2 separate regions of the Homo sapiens genome follow, and region 2 is linked to region 1. The links come from fine-mapping of genetic effects on plasma protein levels. A gene starts in region 1. The other region holds a variant in brackets. All regions are shown on one strand. Distances are between the middles of the regions.

Region 1 (9,336 bases):
CTGCCTGCCTATCTCAGCAGCTACTTTAAATTCAAATCGTTAATATATGGGAAAGTATTGTACAAATGTAGATAATTAATTCTTATTAAATTAAACGGATACTAGTTTTTCTTATCTCCCAAAAGCCTAAACATAGTAAATTTAGAGAGTAATGCTGGTTTTATTTTCTAAGGTTTAAACTTGTTTGCATTTGTGGATTATACTCCTTGGATCTCAAAACTAACTAGTTATGTGGACCATTATTAGGTGGTAATGCTGGGGACAAAATTATTAAAAGTATCTTACAGAGATTCATAGGGACAATAATAAGAACTTTCAATATACCTTAAAGACAAAGGACAGTAACTTCAGAATATTTTGTAAGCATGATATCATATTTTCTGCTAAGTCATTTCTGAAGAGTTTACATTAGTTTTAGCGTTTTAAAAATACTGTATTTATGGACAGATGGCAGGTATATATTATAGGGCTAAAGAAATATTTCCGAAAAAATTACACTATGAGAAATATAAAAGCAATTTAAATGTATCATTAAAGGAAGACATGTAGTTATCTCTGAAAAAATCTTAAATTCCAAGGATTGTTAGACTAAAGATATAACTGAATTGTTTGGGGGAATCATAAGGACCATTAAATTATTTTGAGGTTAATAACATGTATATTGATGTCACCTTAAAACAAAGGAAGGATGAGAAACGAAGATGATACAAGAGGTAGATTTCACCTTTTTTTTAACTCCTTTAACATATCATTCTGCATCTATGAAAGATTTTTTGAAGAATTATTTTAAGCTCATCCTCCCTCTCTTCTCCAGCTTTGCTGCTTCTCATTTCTTACTCTTTCCTGTCACCATTTCTCCTTACCAAGAAGTTGGGGGAAGGAGGGAAAATGACCACGTAAAGCTGTGTTAGTTTGTTGTAAACTCATTAAGCATTCATTATTTGGCTGGGTGCGGTGGCTCACACCTGTAATCTCAGCACTTTGGGAGGCCGAGCTGGGTGGATCACCTGAGGTCGAGAGTTCAAGAACAGCATGGCCAACATGGGGAGACCCCGTATCTACTAAAAATACAAAAATTAGCTTGGCGTGGTGATGCATGTCTGCAATCCCAGTTACTTGGGAGACTGAGGCAGGAGAATCACTTGAACCCGGGAGGCAGAGTTTGCAGTGAGCCAAGATTGCGCCATTGCACTCCAGCCTGAGCAACAGAGTGAGACTCCTCTGTCTCAAAAACAACAACAACAACAACAACAACAACAAACATTCATTTTTTGAGTTAATTTTTGAATTTATTTCTTTGCATTCTGGGAAACTAGGTAGCTCATTTATTTAAATCTTCAAATCACAGTACTTTGTTTATATTCAACACGTTTTTGTATCCTGGGTTACGTGCTATCTTGGTCTCTAAAGAGAGTTGAAGGAGGAAGGAGAAATAAAAAGGATGGAGAAGGTGGTCAGAGAGGTGTAAGGGAGGTGTAAGGGCATATGAAGAGGCAAAATTGTACCCAAATCCATGGAATTTTAGCTCAGTGTTACTTTCCCAGCAGAGCCTTGCTCTGTGCCTTTCTTTCTCTACTTCAACTATTAGTAAGAGAGGGTTAGTAAGGATGCCTTTTCCTACTGGTTCTCTCTATGTACCATGTAAAATTTTATAATGACATAACAACTATCAGTGGAACATGGTGGCTCATGCTTGTAATACTAGCATTTTGGGAGGCTGAGGAGGAAAGATTACTTGAGGCCAGGAGTTCGAGACTAGTCACATAGTGAGACACCCATCTCTACCAATACTACTACTACTAGTACTCCTACTCCTACTACTATCAACTATAATTCACTGAACAGTTTCTAATACACCAGATTTTTTCCTTGAAGATATGTATTATTGGGAATCATAAAAACTGTGCAAGTCATTACCATCACATTTTATCAATGAGGAAACTGAGGTTCAGAGAGGTAAGTAGTTTGTGGTTCAGTCATTGGGTGACACAGATCCAAATTGAACAGACTGAACAGATTCCAAAACCAATTGTACATAATATTCCAGCTCTGTTGTCCCACCTAGAGGAGTGTCTACCTTGCTGGAAGTCTGGGACCAAGTAGGAAGAGATGAAGCCACTGTGGCAAGGACTTTAGGAAGAGATGTCTAGGGCCACATAGGTGCTTTCTCACTTAGCCTACAACTAGGGCCAGCACAAAAGCCCAGATTTTTTAAAATCAGAAGTTACTTTTTGAAGTATGTTTCAATATGGCCAAAGAAAAAGATCATCATGGTGAACTGAAACTAACAGGTATAATGTCACAGAGACAATTATTTTTGAGGTTTAATAACATATGTTAAGCTGCCATTTAAAAGAGATAGCAAGTCAGCCGGGCGTGGTTGCTCACGCCTGTAATCCCAGCACTTTGGGAGGCCGAGGTGGATCTCCTGAGGTCAGGAGTTCGAGACCAGTCTAGCCAACATGGTGAAACCCCATCTCTACTAAAAAAAAACCACAAAAAATTAGCTGGGTGTGGTGGCAGGTGCCAGCAATCCCCAGCTACTTGGGAGGCTGAGACAGGAGAATTGCTTGAACCCGGAGGCAGAGGTTGCAGTGAGCAGAGATCACGCCATTGCACTCCAGCCTGGGGGACAAGAGCAAGATTTTGTCTCAAAAAACAAAATAAATAAAAATAAAAGAGATACAAATCAAACACATTGAGAAATACATATAAAAAGTGGATCCCCTAGACTGAAGAGGAAGATACAAGAAAGTAGGCAGGAAAAAAAATAACTACCTCCCTCAGAACAACTAGATTATAAAATACAATTACCTGAATACAACTTTTGAGCAGTGATTTTTCACTGATACATTCTTAGAAACCAATTCAGTAGTTTTAAATAAAATATTTGAAAGTTCTCTCTATGTAACTGTACCACTAATAATCTACAATGCATGATGCTTATCATTACTATAAAAATTACAATTTTAAAAATGCCTTTCATCATTTTCATTCACCCACTCTTATTAAATAAAGTTAATGGTCATTAGGAAATTTTCCTATACTACTGAATGCCTTAAAGCCTTCATTTGGAGAATACATGTTGGCCTAGAAGGAATGCATTCCAAAATTTTCCTTTCCATCATGGCGTGTGTCTGTTTATGTGTTGTGCCCTATATGTAACTACAAGTTTATTTTGTCCTGTCCAGAAGACGGGGAGGACGGTCCCAGCTGCAGGCTGTTCTGTGTGGGAAGAGAAAAAGGCTGATGCTTAAAGGCCCTCCAAAGGAATCTACTTAAGCCTCATACCAGATTTGGGAGGACTGGTTATACCTGCCTAAACCTGGCACAGGAAGAACAGCACTCAAGCAATTCCTACCTTGGGGTTAACTAGGAATACAAGTTTCACCTTGTGACTCTGGTGTAACTTTGGTTTATTTTTCTCTTAGTAACAGCTCAGCTTGCAAATGAAAGCACTGAGACGCAACTCAGTTACATGTTTGAGGACTCAGGAAAATCAATTCTTACCTTCCACTCTTCCAAATGTAATGGTTGTATTCCAGCTTTACCATGCCCCATAAGCAAATGACTTGAGAGAGAGAGGTGGTTGGGGGCTGGGGGAGAAAAAGAAGAAGGAGAAGGAGAGGGAAGAAGAGGAGGAAGAACAGAGAGAAAGAAAGTGAGGGGAAAAAAAAGAAACAAACAAAAAAAGACAGGAAAAGTCTCTTAACATTGAAGAGATTGGATATCCAGTGTCAGAAAATTTGGATTTTCTTGGGAGTACTTATTTTATTTATGGTGGTAAATAAAGCCCTCAAGGAAGGTTATTAATTTATCTGTCCTATTTAGTATATTAAATTATACTACTTCATATTCTAGTGGCCTGAAAAAGTTAATTTACCACTTGAATGGCATAAATGATGAATACTTACACCAAGTCCTGGAATTTTCCAATGCTCAACAAACATTTAGTACTTTTTGTTTAGGTCTCGCTTTTTTTTTTTTTTATTAGTATCTACGAAAAAGGAAAACAAAATTGTAGCATTCTGTTGGGGCTAACAGGACAGCTGTTGGCTAGGCTAAATGCCATCTTGGAGTAAGAGATACTTTAACTTAGGGCACTGGTGCTGAGAGATGGAGAGAATATCAGAAAAGAAAAATGCAGGGTGGAAGTGTTGAGAGGGAGGGAGATGATGTCAAAATCCATTGGCTTCCAGTGTTTCTGCTCTTTTTAGCTGGGGTGCAGTAACCTTCCATCTTACAACTTTGGGTTTCTTTAAACTTCATGCCTGCCCTCTCTACCAATGTTTTATGAGCTGTCATGTGGGACTAGAATGGGATTCTGAAAATTAAGAGCTGATTTTTATTCCACCGGATATATCAGTTGCCTGGGGCAGTAAAATAATTTAGTTTTGAAATGAAATGTTATTCGTGGGAGACAAGTGCACAACAATTTACTTAACTTAAACAGTAGGATGAGGAGGAAGAGGCAGACACCCAAACTACATTTCATATGTAAAATAAGGCTTACATGACTTTTGGATGCTATAGAAATAAAATTTCTGTACTGAGGGGCATAATTATCCACATAAATCTTATATGAGGAACACAGACCAGTACAAAAGCAGCTGTATCTTTTGGTTATCTTGGAGGCAATATATAACCACATAAGGTAAAATTGGATGCTGCTTGCTTTCTCTAAAAGCTGTGAGGATGTCTTTCTGTTCCAGAAATTGCTTAATGCAAGTAAATGAAAATATACTGAATACATGAGTAAATTCATAAACAGAAATACAAATGAAATTTCTAAAGTAGGTCCTGGTGAGCCCCAATTTTATGAATTATTAGAAGACAATGCACCCAGAAACTAAGACACTAGCTTGAAGACTTTTTTCATTTCTTTTCTTTTTTTTTTTTTTTTTTTTTGTTGCTGATGTTGTTGTTGTTGTTGTCGTTGTTTTGAAACAGTGTCTCACTCTTGCGCCTTGGCTGGAGTGAAGTGGCTCGATCTAGGCTCATTGAAGGCTCCATCTCCCAAGCTTAAGCGATCCTCCCCACCTCAGCCTCAGGGAATGGATGGGACTGCAGGTGCACACCACCATACCCGGCTATTAATTTACTTTTGTATTTTTTGTAGAGACGAGGTTTCGCTATGGCTTCAAGACTTTAAAAGGCAACAATGACTCTTTTGAAATTGCCTGCATTATCAAATGCCTGAAGTCAACCACAATGAATGGTGAGTCTGGTTTCTCCATGACACTAGCAATCCTCTGAAATAAAGGAAGTTAGAATTCCAGAACACGTTTGGGTCTCTGACTCTTCCTCGGTGGCTTCCAGGAGTTTAGGTCAGCCTGCAGGCCCGACCGGAACCCCCGACACCCCTCCACGCGGATTCTTTACATCTCCCTCCCTACCTTGTTTACGCCCTAGGGGGTAGGGAAATGAACAGTCAGTCAGGTGAGACCCAGCAGGGGGAGTGGTGAGCTGGTCCGAGGGCAGCCCGAATATGTCCCTGGGTGTGGGTATGGGTGTGGGGCAATTTGGGTGGGAGCAGCGTGGAGGCTCCCAGGACCAAGTCCTGCGCCTCTTTGGCGGGGTGTGTGCAGGAGGAGGGGGGATAAATAGGAGGCTCCCTCCTCCCGGCGACATTCACGGAGCCGGCCGGCCTCCCGCCCTGGGTGTTTCCCTGCCTTGTAGCCAGGGTGCCAGCCTGGGAAGTAGTTTCGTTTCCTTCTGCCTCCGGGATTAGTTTCCAGGCACCCTCTCAGGCGCCCGAGGCCCGGGAAGGGGGCGAAGAAGGAGGGAGACTTGTCTAGGGGCTGCCCGGCCCGGCAGAGCGGGGTTGATGGACCGGGCCGCCCGGTGCAGCGGCGCCAGCTCCCTGCCACTGCTCCTGGCCCTTGCCCTGGGTAAGTGGCCGTGCTGGGCACTGGAAACCAGGAGGAAAGTCTGGGGCTGGAGTCGCGGGGAGGGCGAACCCTGAACCGAGCTGGCATCTGGACAAGAGGGCGCGCTGGGGCTGGCAGGCGCGGGTTGGAGAACTTTGAAGGCTGGGAGAGCGCGAGGTTAAAGATCTGGCAATTGGGCACCTGGGGCTGCACCTGCTGGAGGCAGTCCCTAGACGCGTGAGAAGGCCCGAGGGCGGAAGCGATTCCGAGGTCCTCGCTGCCAGTGCTGCGAGCAGGCCGCCAGCTGCTGACTTGTGCGCACAGCAGAGGGCCTGGCGGCGCCGGCGGGCTGTCCACCGGGGTGAGGCGCTGTGCTCGCAAGTGAGGGTCGGGGGGTGGGGGCAGGGGCGAGCAGGGAAACCCACTAAAGAAGCTCACGTGGTAGTATAGACCAAGAAGCATATCCTGCAGGAGGCAGAAGAACGGGAACTCTTTGACTGAAGGTGTGATCACCTGGCGTTAGGGAAGAGTGCCAGCGGGAGGAGGAGTAGCAGGATGCCTAGAGCCCTCCAGAGGGTCTCTCCTGCCTCCTTAGGAGTCAGAACTCACAAAGCAGAGCTGGAACTTCAGATGTGGCTGGAAGCAGGCTTCCCCTTCCCCTCCACCGAGGGAAGGTAGTGAGAAGGCTTCTAAGTAGGAAAAAATCCCAACTCTTCAAAGCTTGCTCTCTGCATCATGGTCATTTTGCGGGGCAGAGAAGGGAAGGGAAACCAGTAACATTTTCTAATCTTAGCTGGGCTGTAGACACATCTGGGTTTGGAGCATTTATGTGGTAGGAGGAGAGTCTCCACAGCTGAAGTGTCACCACGATATCACTCCTACCTTCAAGCCTGGGAAGGGGACACCACAAATGAAAAAGAATGGGAATTCCTCTTATTGAGGAAAGAGAGGGGGAGCCTAAATGAAAACTTTCATTTGACTGTGTCCTTGGAGTAAGAGAGGTGGCTAAAAAGGTACAGTGAACTTGCTTGGAGGTGGATCAGACTTAGGACCAAGGTTAGAGAAAATAAACTTATTTAACAAACGCTGAAGAGGAAGGAGTCAGTAACAATTTAGTGGTAGAGTGAATGTGTACATTCATGAAGAAGAGCAATGGGGTTGAGACTTAACCCTAGAAATAGTACTGATGCTTTTGCCAGCATTGCTTGCAAGTAGCTGACATTCTCTTCCTCCACCGTGTCTAAACTATCCAACAGTCAAAGTATTCCCTGAGAATCTGTCGTAGTCAGCAAGGTGCTGAGGTATGTAGCAATGGAGGTGGGGAAAGGGCTCATGAGATTCCTAAAATAAAACATGATTCCTGCCCTAGAACTTGCACTGAATTTGGATATGCAAGCCCAGCAGGGTAACCTGTGGAAAAATTCACGGAATCAGAAAAGGGAGAAAGAGCTCAACAGCGGGGGCTGGAATAGTGGGGAAAGGCTGAATGGAGGACACGAATGCGTGCCTTGAGGCTTGGGTAGAGTTTGCAATAGTAGAGAGGAAAGAGGGAACAGAGACAAGGGAAAAAGCATTTAGTAAAGGGTTGGCGATGCGAATGAGCATGCTTTACTGGAAAGAGTAGAATTTCTGAGAGGCAGACAGATTATGAAGAACTGAAAAAGCCAGATTAGAATATTTGGAACAGAATCAATAAGCTATTAAACACACACCATCACAGGGCTTGACTGGGAGTGATATGATGCAAACAATGGTTTAAAGGTGATAAATCTGTCAGTGAGGTGCAGTATAGGAAGGGGGGGCGCCTGTGGGCCAGAGGACCTGATTGTCTCGTAGGTATAATCTGGGCATGAGCTACTTGGGGCCTAAATTAGGGTGATGTTTTAGCAGAGGTGTCATAGTAGAAATGACTATTGAAAGTCGATGGACATTCTTTCCCCTTTACTATCACAAAACTTGTCAAAAGACAGAAATGAAAATCAAAAAGCAAAACTCGAATCCAGTGCTATTGTACACTCAGGGTAACCTAAATGTACAACCGCCCTGTTAAATGATTGGCTTGGGAAATTGAATTTGGTCTCTAGATCCCCTTAAAGCTCTATTTCTTGCAAAATGCTAAGGAACGTAATTTGTTGGCATCGCTGTTTCCATTAAGTGGCCCTATTTCTGTCATACACACTTTACTTTTAAGTCCCCTTCCTAAATTATGTCACATGTTGTTCTATTTACTTTTTGAAAAGAATGTGAGCAATAAGATGCATGAGACACTAGTGTTTGTGTGTGTGTGTGTGTGTGTGTGTGTGTGTGTGTGTGAGATGGTGGAAATGCGATGAGAGTGGGCATTGAGCAGACATGAGCCCTGGTTCCAGCTCTACCACTTCATGACTCCGAGATGTCTGTAAGTTACAACTTTCTGGGCATTGTTTTTCTAATTTGTAAAATGAAGAGGTTTCATTAGATGGTGATGCCCTTTCCATGTCACATTCTTTTCAAAAAGTAAACAAAATAACATGTGATTTAAATTAGAAATGGCTTATGTCTATTACAAATGTAGATGCTCCTTAAATACATCTGGCATTTAGTAGATGCATCTTTACAGGATAATTTCCATTCTAACATATGCAAATTAGGTACTACTTTCTTTGAGAAATTTTATAAAGACAGAAGTGGGGTTGGAGATATAAAAAGAAGGTATACCATAAGCAGATTATATGGTACAAATACATTTAATATAAATATAAATTACACGTTTATGTGTTATCGATATTCTTTATATGCATTAATTTGGTTTAATTTTCTAAAACTGTTTAAAGGCATTTTCTAAGTCAGTAGAAATCCTGAGCCATTTAATCTTACTTTCTCAAAAAATGAGATTTTCCAAAATGGGCTCGTATTTCTCTACTGTATTTTCTTTTTCTTTTTCTTTTTCTTTTTTCTTTTTTTGAGACAGTCTCACTCTTTCGCTCAGGCTCAGTTACAGTGGCATGATCTCAGCTCACTGCAACCTCCGCCTCCAGGGCTCAAGTGACTCTCCTGTCTCAGCCTCTCGAGTAGCTGGGACAACAGGCACTCGCCACCACGCCCAGCTAATTATTGTATTTTTTGAAGAGACGGGGTTTTGGCATGTTGGCCAGGCTGGTCTTAAACTCCTGGTCTCAAGAGATCGTAGCAGATAAATATTTGTTGCTGAATTAGGTAGGGAGAGATAGGACATTCAAGTGCAGAATGTCCTGTCTAGGGAGAGATAGGACACTCCAGTGCAGAGACGTTGCGTTGCATATAACAGGAAAAACCAATACTGGAAACCATTTCTTTTGACTTATTTAAAAAGCATGTAAGCTCATCCTAGCTGTCTCCTACACCTTTGCTTTCCCTACTGCCTACCCATACATCTGTGCCATCCCTGGCTCTGGCTATTCTCTGACAGATTCTTGGACTCCTGGCTCTTCCTTGCTTCCAGGAAACC
Region 2 (9,433 bases), 87 kb after region 1:
TCATCTCTGAAAGAAAGGCAGCAACCCCAGTCAGGGGCTTATAGATAAAACTCCCACCTCCCTGAGACAGAGCACCTGGGGGAAGGGGCGACTATGGGCGCAGCTTCAGTAGACTTAAACGTTTCTGCCTGCCAGTTCTGAAGACAGCGGTGGATCTCCCAGCACAGCGCTTGAGCTCTGCTAATAGACAGACTGCCTCCTCAAGTGGGTCCCTGATCCCTGTGCCTCCTGACTGGGAGGCAGCTCCCAGCAGGGGTCAACAGACACGTCATACAGGAGAGGTCCAGCTGCCATCTGGTGGGTGCCCCTCTGGGATGAAGCTTCCAGAGGAAAGAACAGGCAGCAATCTTTGCTGTTCTGCAGCCTCCACTGGTGATACCCAGGCAAACAGGGTCTGGAGCAAACTCCAGCAGACTCCAGCAGACCTGCAGCAGAGGGGCCTGACTGTCAAAAGGAAAACTAAGAAACAGAAAGGAATAGCATCAATGTCAACAAAAAAGATGTCCACACAGAAACCCCATCCAAAGGTCACCAACATGAAAGACCAAAGGTAGATAAATCCATGAAGATGAGGAAAAACCAGCACAAAAAGGCTGAAAATTCCAAAAATCAGAATGCCTCTTCTCCTCCAAAGGATCACAACTCCTCACCAGCAAGGGAACAAAACTGGATGGAGAATGAGTTTGACGAATTGACAGAAGTAGACTTCAGAAGGTGGGTAATAACAAACTCCTCCAAGCTAAAGGAGCATGTTCTAACCCAAAGCAAGGAAGCTAAGAACCTTGAAAAAAGGTTAGAGGAGTTGCTAACTAGATTAAACAGTTTAGAGAAGAATATAAATGATCTGATGGAGCTGATAAACACAGCATGAGAACCTCATGAAGCATACATAGGTATCAATAGACAAATCAATCAAGTGGGAAGAAAGGATTTCAAAGATTGAAGATAAACTTAATGAAATAAAGTGTGAAGACAAGATTAGAGAAAAAGGAATGAACAAAGCCTCCAAGAAATATGGGACTATGTGAAAAGACCAAACCCATGTTTTATTGGTGTACCTGAAAATGATGGGGTGAATGGAACCAAGTTGGAAAACACTCTTCAGGATATTATCCAGGAGAAATTCCTCAATGTAGCAAGACAGGCCAGCATTCATATTCAGAAAATGCAGAGAACACCACAAAGATACCTCTTGAGAAGAGCAACCCCAAGACACATAATTGTCAGATTCACCGAGGTAGAAATAAAAGGAAAATGTTAAGGGCAGACAGAGAGAAAGGTTGTGTTAATCACAAAGGGAAGCCCATCAGATTAACAGTGGATCTCTCTACAGAAAGCCTATAAGCCAGAAAACAGTGGGGGCCAATATTCAACATTCTTAAAGAACAGAATTTTCAACCCAGAATTTCATACCCAGCCAAACTAAGCTTCATAAGTGAAGGAGAAATAAAATCCTTCACAGACAAGAAGATGCTGAGAGATTTTGTCACCACCAGGACTGCCTTGCAAGAGCTCCTGAGGAAAGCACTAAATATGGAAAGGAACAACCGGTACCAGCCACTGCAAAAACATACCAAATTATAAAGACCATTGAAACTATGAAGAAACTGCATCAACTAAAAAGCAAAATAACCAGAAAACATCATAATGACAGAATCAAATTCACACATAACAATATTAACCTTAAATGTACATGGGCTAAACACCCCAATTAAAAGACACAGACTGACAAATTGGATAAAGAGTCAAGCCCCATTGGTGTGCTGTATTCAGGAGACCCATCTCATGTGCAAAGACACACATAGGCTCAAAATAAAGGGATGATGGAATATTTACCAAGCAAATGGAAAGCAAAAAAAAAAAAAAAAAAAAAGCAGGGTTGCAAACCTAGTCTCTGATAAAACAGACTTTAAAACAACAAAGATCAAAAAAGACAAAGAAGGGCATTACATAATGGTAAAGGGATCAATGAAACAAGAAGAGCTAACTATTCTCAATATATATGCAACCAATACAGGAGCACCCAGATTCATAAAGCAAATTCTTAGAGACCTACAAAGAGACTTAGACTCCCACACAGTAATAGTGGGAGACTTTAACACCCCACTGTCAATGTTAGACAGATCAATGAGACAGAAAATTAAGAAGGATATTCAGGACTTGAACTCAGCTCTGGACCAAGCAGACCTAATAGACATAAAAGAACTCTTCACTCCAAATCGACAGAATATACATTCTTCTCAGCACCACATCACAGTTATTCTAAAACTGACCACATAGTTGGCAGTAAAATACTCCTTAGCAAATGCAAAAGAATGGAAATCACAACAGTCTCTCAGCCTACAGTGCAATCAAATTAGAAGAAGGATTAAGAAACTCACTCAAAAACATACAACTACATGGAAACTGAAAAACCTGCTCCTGAATGACTACTGGGTAAATAACAAAATTAAGGCAGAAATAAATAAGTTCATTGAAACAAATGAGAACAAAGGCACAATGTACCAGAATCTCTGGGACACAGCTAAACAGTATGTAGAGGGAAATTTACAGCACTAAATGCCCACATGAGAAAGGGGAGAATGATCTAAAATCGACACCCTAACATCACAATTAAAAGAACTAGAGAAGCAAGAGCAAACAAATTCAAAAGCTAGTAGAAGACAAGAAATAACTAAGATCAGAGCAGAACTGAAGGAGATAGAGACATAAAAAATGCTTCAAAAAATCAAGGAATCCAGGAGCTGGTTTTTTGAAAAGTGTACCAAAATAAAAAGACCACTAGCCAGATTAATAAAGAAGAAAAGAAAGAAGAATCAAATTGACAAAAAATGATAAAGGGGATATCACCACTGATCCCACAGAAATACAAACTACCATCAGAAAATACTAAAAAAACCTCTATGCAAATAAACTAGAAAATCTAGAAGAAATGGACAAATTCCTGGACACATACACCCTTCCAAGACTAAACAAGGAAGAAGTCAAATCCCTGAAAAGACCAATAACAAGTTCTGAAATTAAGGCAGTAATTAATAGCTTACCAACCACAAAAAGCCCAGGACCATACAGAGTTACTACCAAATTCTACCAGAGGTACAAAGAGGAGCTGGTACCATTCCTTCTGAAACTATTCCAAACAATAGAAACAGAGTGACTCCTCCCTAACTCATTTTATGAGGCCAGCATCATCCTGATACCAAAACCTGGCAGAGACACAAACAAAAAAGAAAATTTCAGGCCAATATCCCTGATGAATATTGATGCAAAAATCCACAATAAAATAATGGCAAACTGAATCCAGTAGCACATCAAAAAGCTTATCCATCACCATCAAGCCGGATTCATCCCTGGGATGCAAGGCTGGTTCAACATACGCAAATCAGTAAACATAATCCATCACATAAACAGAACCAATGATAACAACCACATGATTATCTCAATAGATGCAGAAAAGGCCTTTGATAAAATTCAGTGCCCCTTCATGTGAAAAACTCTCAATAAACTAGGTACTGATGGAACGTATCTCAAAATAATAAAAGCTATTTATGACAAACCCGCAACTGATATCATACTGAATGGGCAAAAGCCAGAAGCATTCCCTTTGAAAGTCAGCACAAGACAAGGATGCCCTCTCTCACCACTCCTATTCAACATAGTATTGGAAGTTCTGGCCATGGCAATCAGGCAAGAGAAAGAAATGATAGGTATTCAAATACAAAGAGAGGAAGTCAAATTGTCTCTGTTTTCAGATGACATGATTGTATATTTAGAAAACCCCATCGTTTCAACCCCAAATCTCCTTAAGCAGATAAGCAACTTCAGCAACGTCTCAGAATACAAAAATCAATGTGCAAAAACCACAGGCATTCCTACACACCAATAATAGAAAAACAGAGAGCCAAATCATGAGAGAACTCCCATTCACAATTGCTACAAAGAGAATGAAATACCTAGGAATCCAACTTACAAGGGATGTGAAGGACCTCTTCAAGGAGAACTACAAACCACTGCTCAACCAAATAAGAGAGGACACAAATGGAAAAACATTTTATGCCCATGGATAGTAAAAATAAATATTGTGAAAATGGCCATACTGCCTAAAGCAATTTATAAATTCAGTGCTATCTCCATCAAGCTACCATTGACTTTCTTCACAGAATTAGGAAAAAACTAGTTTAAATTTCATATGGAACCAAAAAAGAGCCTGCATAGCCAAGACAATCCTAAGCAAAAAGAACAAAGCTGGAGGCATCAAGCTACCTAGCTTCAAACTATACTACAGGGCTACAGTAACAAAAACAGCATGGTACTGGTACCAAAACAGATATATAGATGAACGGAACAGAACAGAGGCCTCAGAAATAACGCCACACATCTACTACCATCTGATCTTTGACAAACCTGACAAAAACAAGCAATAGGGAAAGGATTCCCTATTTAATAAGTGGTGTTGGGAAAACTGGCTAGCCATATGCAGAAAACTGAAACTGGATCCCTTCCACACACACTATACAAAAATTAAGTCAAGATGAATTAAAGATTTAAATGTGAGACCTAAAACCATAGAAACCCTAGAAGAAAACCTAGGCAGTAGCATTCAGGCCATAGGCATGGGCAAAGACTTCATGACTAAAACACCAAAGCAGTGGCAACAAAAGCCAAAACTGACAAATGGATCTAATTAAACTAAAGAGCTTCTGCACAGCAAAAGAAACTATCATCAGAGCAAACAGGCAACCTAGAGAATGGGAGAAAATTTTTGCAATCTATCCATCTGACAAAGGGCTAATACCAGAATCTATGAGGAACTTAAACAAATTTATAAGGAAAAAACAACCCCATCAAAAAGTGAGTGAAGGCTATGACAGACACTTCTCAAAAGAAGACATTCATGCAGCCAATAAACATGAAAAAAAGCTCATCATCACTGGTCATTAGAGAAATGCAAATCAAAACTACAATGAGATACCATCTCATGCCAGTTAGAATGGCAATCATTAAAAAGTCAGGAAACAACAGATGCTGGCAAAGATGCGGAGAAATAGGAATACTTTTACACTGTTGGTGGGAGTGTAAATTAGTTCAACCATTGTGGAAGATAGTGTGGTGATTCCTCAAGGATTTAGAACCAGAAATACCATTTGACTCAGCAATCCAGTTACTGGGTATATACCCAAAGGATTATAAATCATTCTACTATAAAGACACGTGCACATATATGTTTATTGCAGCACTATTCACA[G/A]TATCAAAGACTTGGAACCCACCCAAATGCCCATCAATGATAGACTGGATAAAGAAAATGTGGTACATATATACCATGGAATACTATGCAGCCGTAAAAAAGGATAAGTTCATGTCCTTTGCAGGGACATGGATGAAGCTGGAAACCATCATTCTCAGCAAACTAACACAGCAACAGAAAACCAAATACCACATTTTCTCGCTCATAATTGGGAGCTGAACAATGAGAACACATGGACACAGGGAGGGGAACATCACACACTGGGGCCTGTTGGGGGGTGGAAGGCTAGGGGAGGGATAGCATTAGGAGAAATACCTAATGTAGATGACAGGTTGATCGGTGCATCAAACCACCATGTCACATGTATACCTATGTAAGAAACCTGCACATTCTGCACATGTATCCCAGAACTTAATGTATAATAGTAAATAAATCAATTTCACCAGGTTAAAATCAAGGTGTTGACAGGTTTGTACCTGCTCTGGGAGCTACCACAGAGGATGTTCCTGGACTGTCCCAGCTTCTGGAGGCTGTTGGCATTTTCTAGTTTGTAGGTATATCTCTTCATTCATTGTCTCAATCTCCACATCACCTTCTTCTCTCTGTGATAACTTCCTCCTCTGTCTCTCTGTTCTATGGACCCTTGTGATGGCATTTAGGGCTGGCTCAGATAATCCAAGAGTATCTCCTCATCTAAACATCCTTAACTTATTTCTGCAAAGATTTTTTTTTCAAATAGGTAATATTTATGGATTCTGGAGGTCAGTGCTGGATATCTCATTCAGTCCACTACAGCATAATATTATGCTTTGTAGTTAACTAAACTTTTATCAATTTTGATTTAGTAAGACTTTTATTTGCATATGCCAGTACCAATACATTTTTCCAGGTCTCAAACTTTCCTGTGAGTCCTTCAGAAGCTTTTATCCTGGGCACCTTGCTCATAATGATAGAGACTTTCTCCCTACCTAAAGCAAATTTGATTAAAAGAAATCGCATCACCTATAGCTAGAGCAGGTGTTTTCTTTTTTTAAAAAAAAACTTTTATTTTAACTTCAGGGTACAAGTGCAGGTATGTTACATAGGTAAACTGGTGTCACATAGGTAAACTGGTGTCATGGAGGTTTGTTGTACAGATTATTTCATCACTCAAGTATTAAGCCTAGTACTTGGGTGATGAATTACTTAGTTATTTTTCCTGATCCTCTCTTTTCTCTGACCCTCCATCCTCTGAAAGTCCCCAGAGTGTTTTGTTCCCCTCTATGTGTTCATGTATTCTCATCATTTAGCTCCCACTTATAAGTGAGAACATGTAGTACTTGCTTTTCTTTTTCTGTTTTACTTTTCTAAGAATAATGAACTCCAGCTCCATCCATGCCCCTTCAAAGGATATGATCCCATTTTTTTATGGCTGCATAGTGTTCCATGGTGTATATGTACCACATTTTCTTTTTCCAGTCTATCCTTGGTCGGCATTTAGGCTGAGTCCATGTCTTTGGTGTTTTTCTAAGAGGTATTTTGCAGAGGGAATTGCTAGGATGCGTTGGCAAAGGAGGAGACTTCTGTCTACAGAGTTCTTGAATTTCATATTTCTGTGGCAACAAATAAGAGAATTACAGAGAGAGTGAAATAGTTAATGTTAACTACAGCTCAGACAGAGAAGCATTAAACTTTAAACCTCAAACTTTAAGCAGATTGTTCCATTTGCCAGCTCTCAGGGGCTTACTGTGCTGCCAGGCACTATACACAGTCCTTTTTACTTACTAGTTCCACTGCTCAGACAATTTCTTCAAATGACGTATAATCTCTTCTTATAGATGAGGAAGCAAGGTACAGAGAGGCTAAATAATTTGTTCAAAGTCACCCAGCAAGTGGATGGCAGAGGCAGAATTTGAACCCAGGTCTGTTTAGCTATAAAGCCCAACTTATCTTGTATGTACTATGCTGTATCATTTCAAAAAAAATACATAAAGCACATGACAAAGAAATTAAAACTGTAGCCTAAATCACAAAAGATTATAACCAGAATAGAGGCTTAACCTCTGTCACCCCAACTTAGTTTTCATTCATTCTCTGAGATAGGGAAACAATAGTCGATACCATTACTTGAACTACAGATGTGTGTGGTTATTTACTGTTTGATAGGACTATATATAATTGATTTCATTATATAAGTTTTGATCTTTGCAACTAAACTTTTTCTGTAATCTTTAGTCTTTGAGTGTCTTGAATTAGAAAGAACTTGCTCAGATACCATTCATATCCAAACTTAATGTATTCTGTTAATATTAACAGTCATTATCACTGTGCCCATAGTGGATGAGCCAGGAAAACCATTATCTCATACTAAAGAATTTCCCAAATGTTGGAATCTTGTTCAATAATTATACATTTCTCTGTGCTATTTACTATAGTATTATTTACTTGATATTCCTTTATTTCCTGTGTTTTAAATTCATAGTTATTTAAAAGGCAACTATATCACTATCGTAATTAGAATATCAGCATCTCTATAAATAGAAGGCAAACAACAAATATTAATGCAACGAAAAGGAAACAATATTTTAAAATTCTGGATAGATAGTATTAACTGCCCATGGAAAAGGTTTTGGACTTGCTTTGTTATTGTTAGAAAGGGAGATGAGCAAGTCTTTGAGAGCTGGTAAATGCACAATGGCATTGACCCCAAATTTCCTCCTTGATAAAATCTGAGGATTGAATGAAATTCTCATTCAATCCCAGCAAAAGGAGTAATTTTCTCACTAGATAATCAATATACTTATGTATGTGTTGTGAACCACATGAACACATCTTGCTATCACCCGTGACTGTCCTCCGCCTTGTGGTATCAGGCTTGAAATTAAGATTCAGCATTATGTGCTTCTTTGCCATCTGAAACTGGGAGAGTTTTTAATGGCCTAATCACAAGCTCCCCCCTCCTCCACTCTACTCCTGTGGATAAAGTCCTCCAGCCAAACAACACTACTTACCAGAGGAACCAGGCACAGTGTCTGTTTATCCCTCAATAGCAGGCTTTAATTCTGGGCCTGCAACATTATTAAAACAAGCCAAGCACGTGCTTCTGCAGGAATCAAGGGTCACCTCACCCTCTTGGTACTACAAAGCCTGCCTCCCACAACTCTGCTTGTTCACTGTGTTCCCAAATGCAACTCACCCCGCCGTCCTGAGTGGAGTGCAGTGTTCTTCCCCAGTCTGTGCATCTATGTGACTGATAAACTGCTGGGATATAATCTGCCCAGTGCTGGGCGTTGTGTGTTCTGCCATCCCTATAATTCCAGGGTGGGAATGCCTCCCTCACCAATGGAGTGAAGAAGAGACAATCAAAACATACTCCAGTTTGGGAAATAGTGCCATCCTATAGAATGGCACCCAAGCAGATCATCTTCCTATTTATAGGATCCCACTCCTTCCTTAAAGGAGCACCAGATCATCACTGGAACAGAAAGACTACTACAAGTGTCATTTGGGTAGTAAGTTCTTGAGATGAGGGAATCTTTTATCTCCTCAAGAGTCTTCATTTAACCTTATGAAGAGAAACAGTGAACTTGGTTTGGCACGCCATTGGTAGGTTTTTATCTACAAGGTCTGATGTGAGGACTTTTTATGCAAATTATCTTTTCTTATTGTCCTGCCAAAGTAGTTTTAACTCCTGTGAGCCCAACACTTAGCATTAAAACCTCTTATTTTCCAAAGATGACTGACAAAATGCTAAAAGTTGTGCTGTATGCAGTTAAAAGCATAGATTCTGGATGCTCAGGAATCAGACTGCCTGGGTTCAAATACAAACCACTTATTTGCGTGTGTTTGGGCAAATTTCTGAACCTCTCTGAGCCTCAGTTTTCCTACTAACAGTACCTTTGTCATGGGATTTCAGTGAATATTAAACGAGTTACATAGAAAGAGCTTAGAATAATACCTGGTACATAGCAAATGTTCAAGAAATGCTAGCTATTATTACTAGAGAGGCAGCAACACAGTATACCTTTAACACTTGTTAAGTAAGAACCAGAGGCAGTAAGAACCTGAGGAAAAAGGAAACTTGACATGCATATACTGAGGGGAGTATGGGCATAGGGTACCATCCAGAGCTGCTGGGACACTGCAAGGGAGGTTTATAGAAGACAGAAGGCTCTGGGTGCCTGGGAAAGGAGGAAGAAATATGAAACA

Direction of the effects. Positions count from the first base shown, and alleles are read on the strand shown. Strength reflects both the effect of a copy and how common the allele is.
For the plasma level of the protein whose gene starts at base 5,630 in region 1, allele G in region 2 goes with a lower level than allele A (strong association).

The links. A credible set is the group of variants that fine-mapping cannot tell apart. PIP is the chance, under the fine-mapping model, that this variant and not a neighbour inherited with it causes the effect. The UK Biobank Pharma Proteomics Project read protein levels with antibody pairs (Olink). The fine-mapping took linkage between variants from a reference panel, not from the people measured, so its PIPs are less certain.
Region 2: its variant is the best candidate, but not a certain one, in a credible set for the plasma level of the BTC protein (UK Biobank, PIP 0.73).

Annotation. Positions count from the first base shown.
Region 1 is chr4:74,790,817-74,800,152 of GRCh38, reverse strand. It overlaps BTC (betacellulin), which reads left to right and starts at 5,630. Exons shown (of 6, transcript NM_001729.4): 1 at 5,630-5,891. The coding sequence starts at 5,828.
Region 2 is chr4:74,704,220-74,713,652 of GRCh38, reverse strand. No RefSeq gene overlaps it. Among named protein-coding and RNA genes, the nearest start is that of BTC, 86 kb to the left of the region's middle. The variant G/A (reference allele first, on the strand shown) is at 5,246.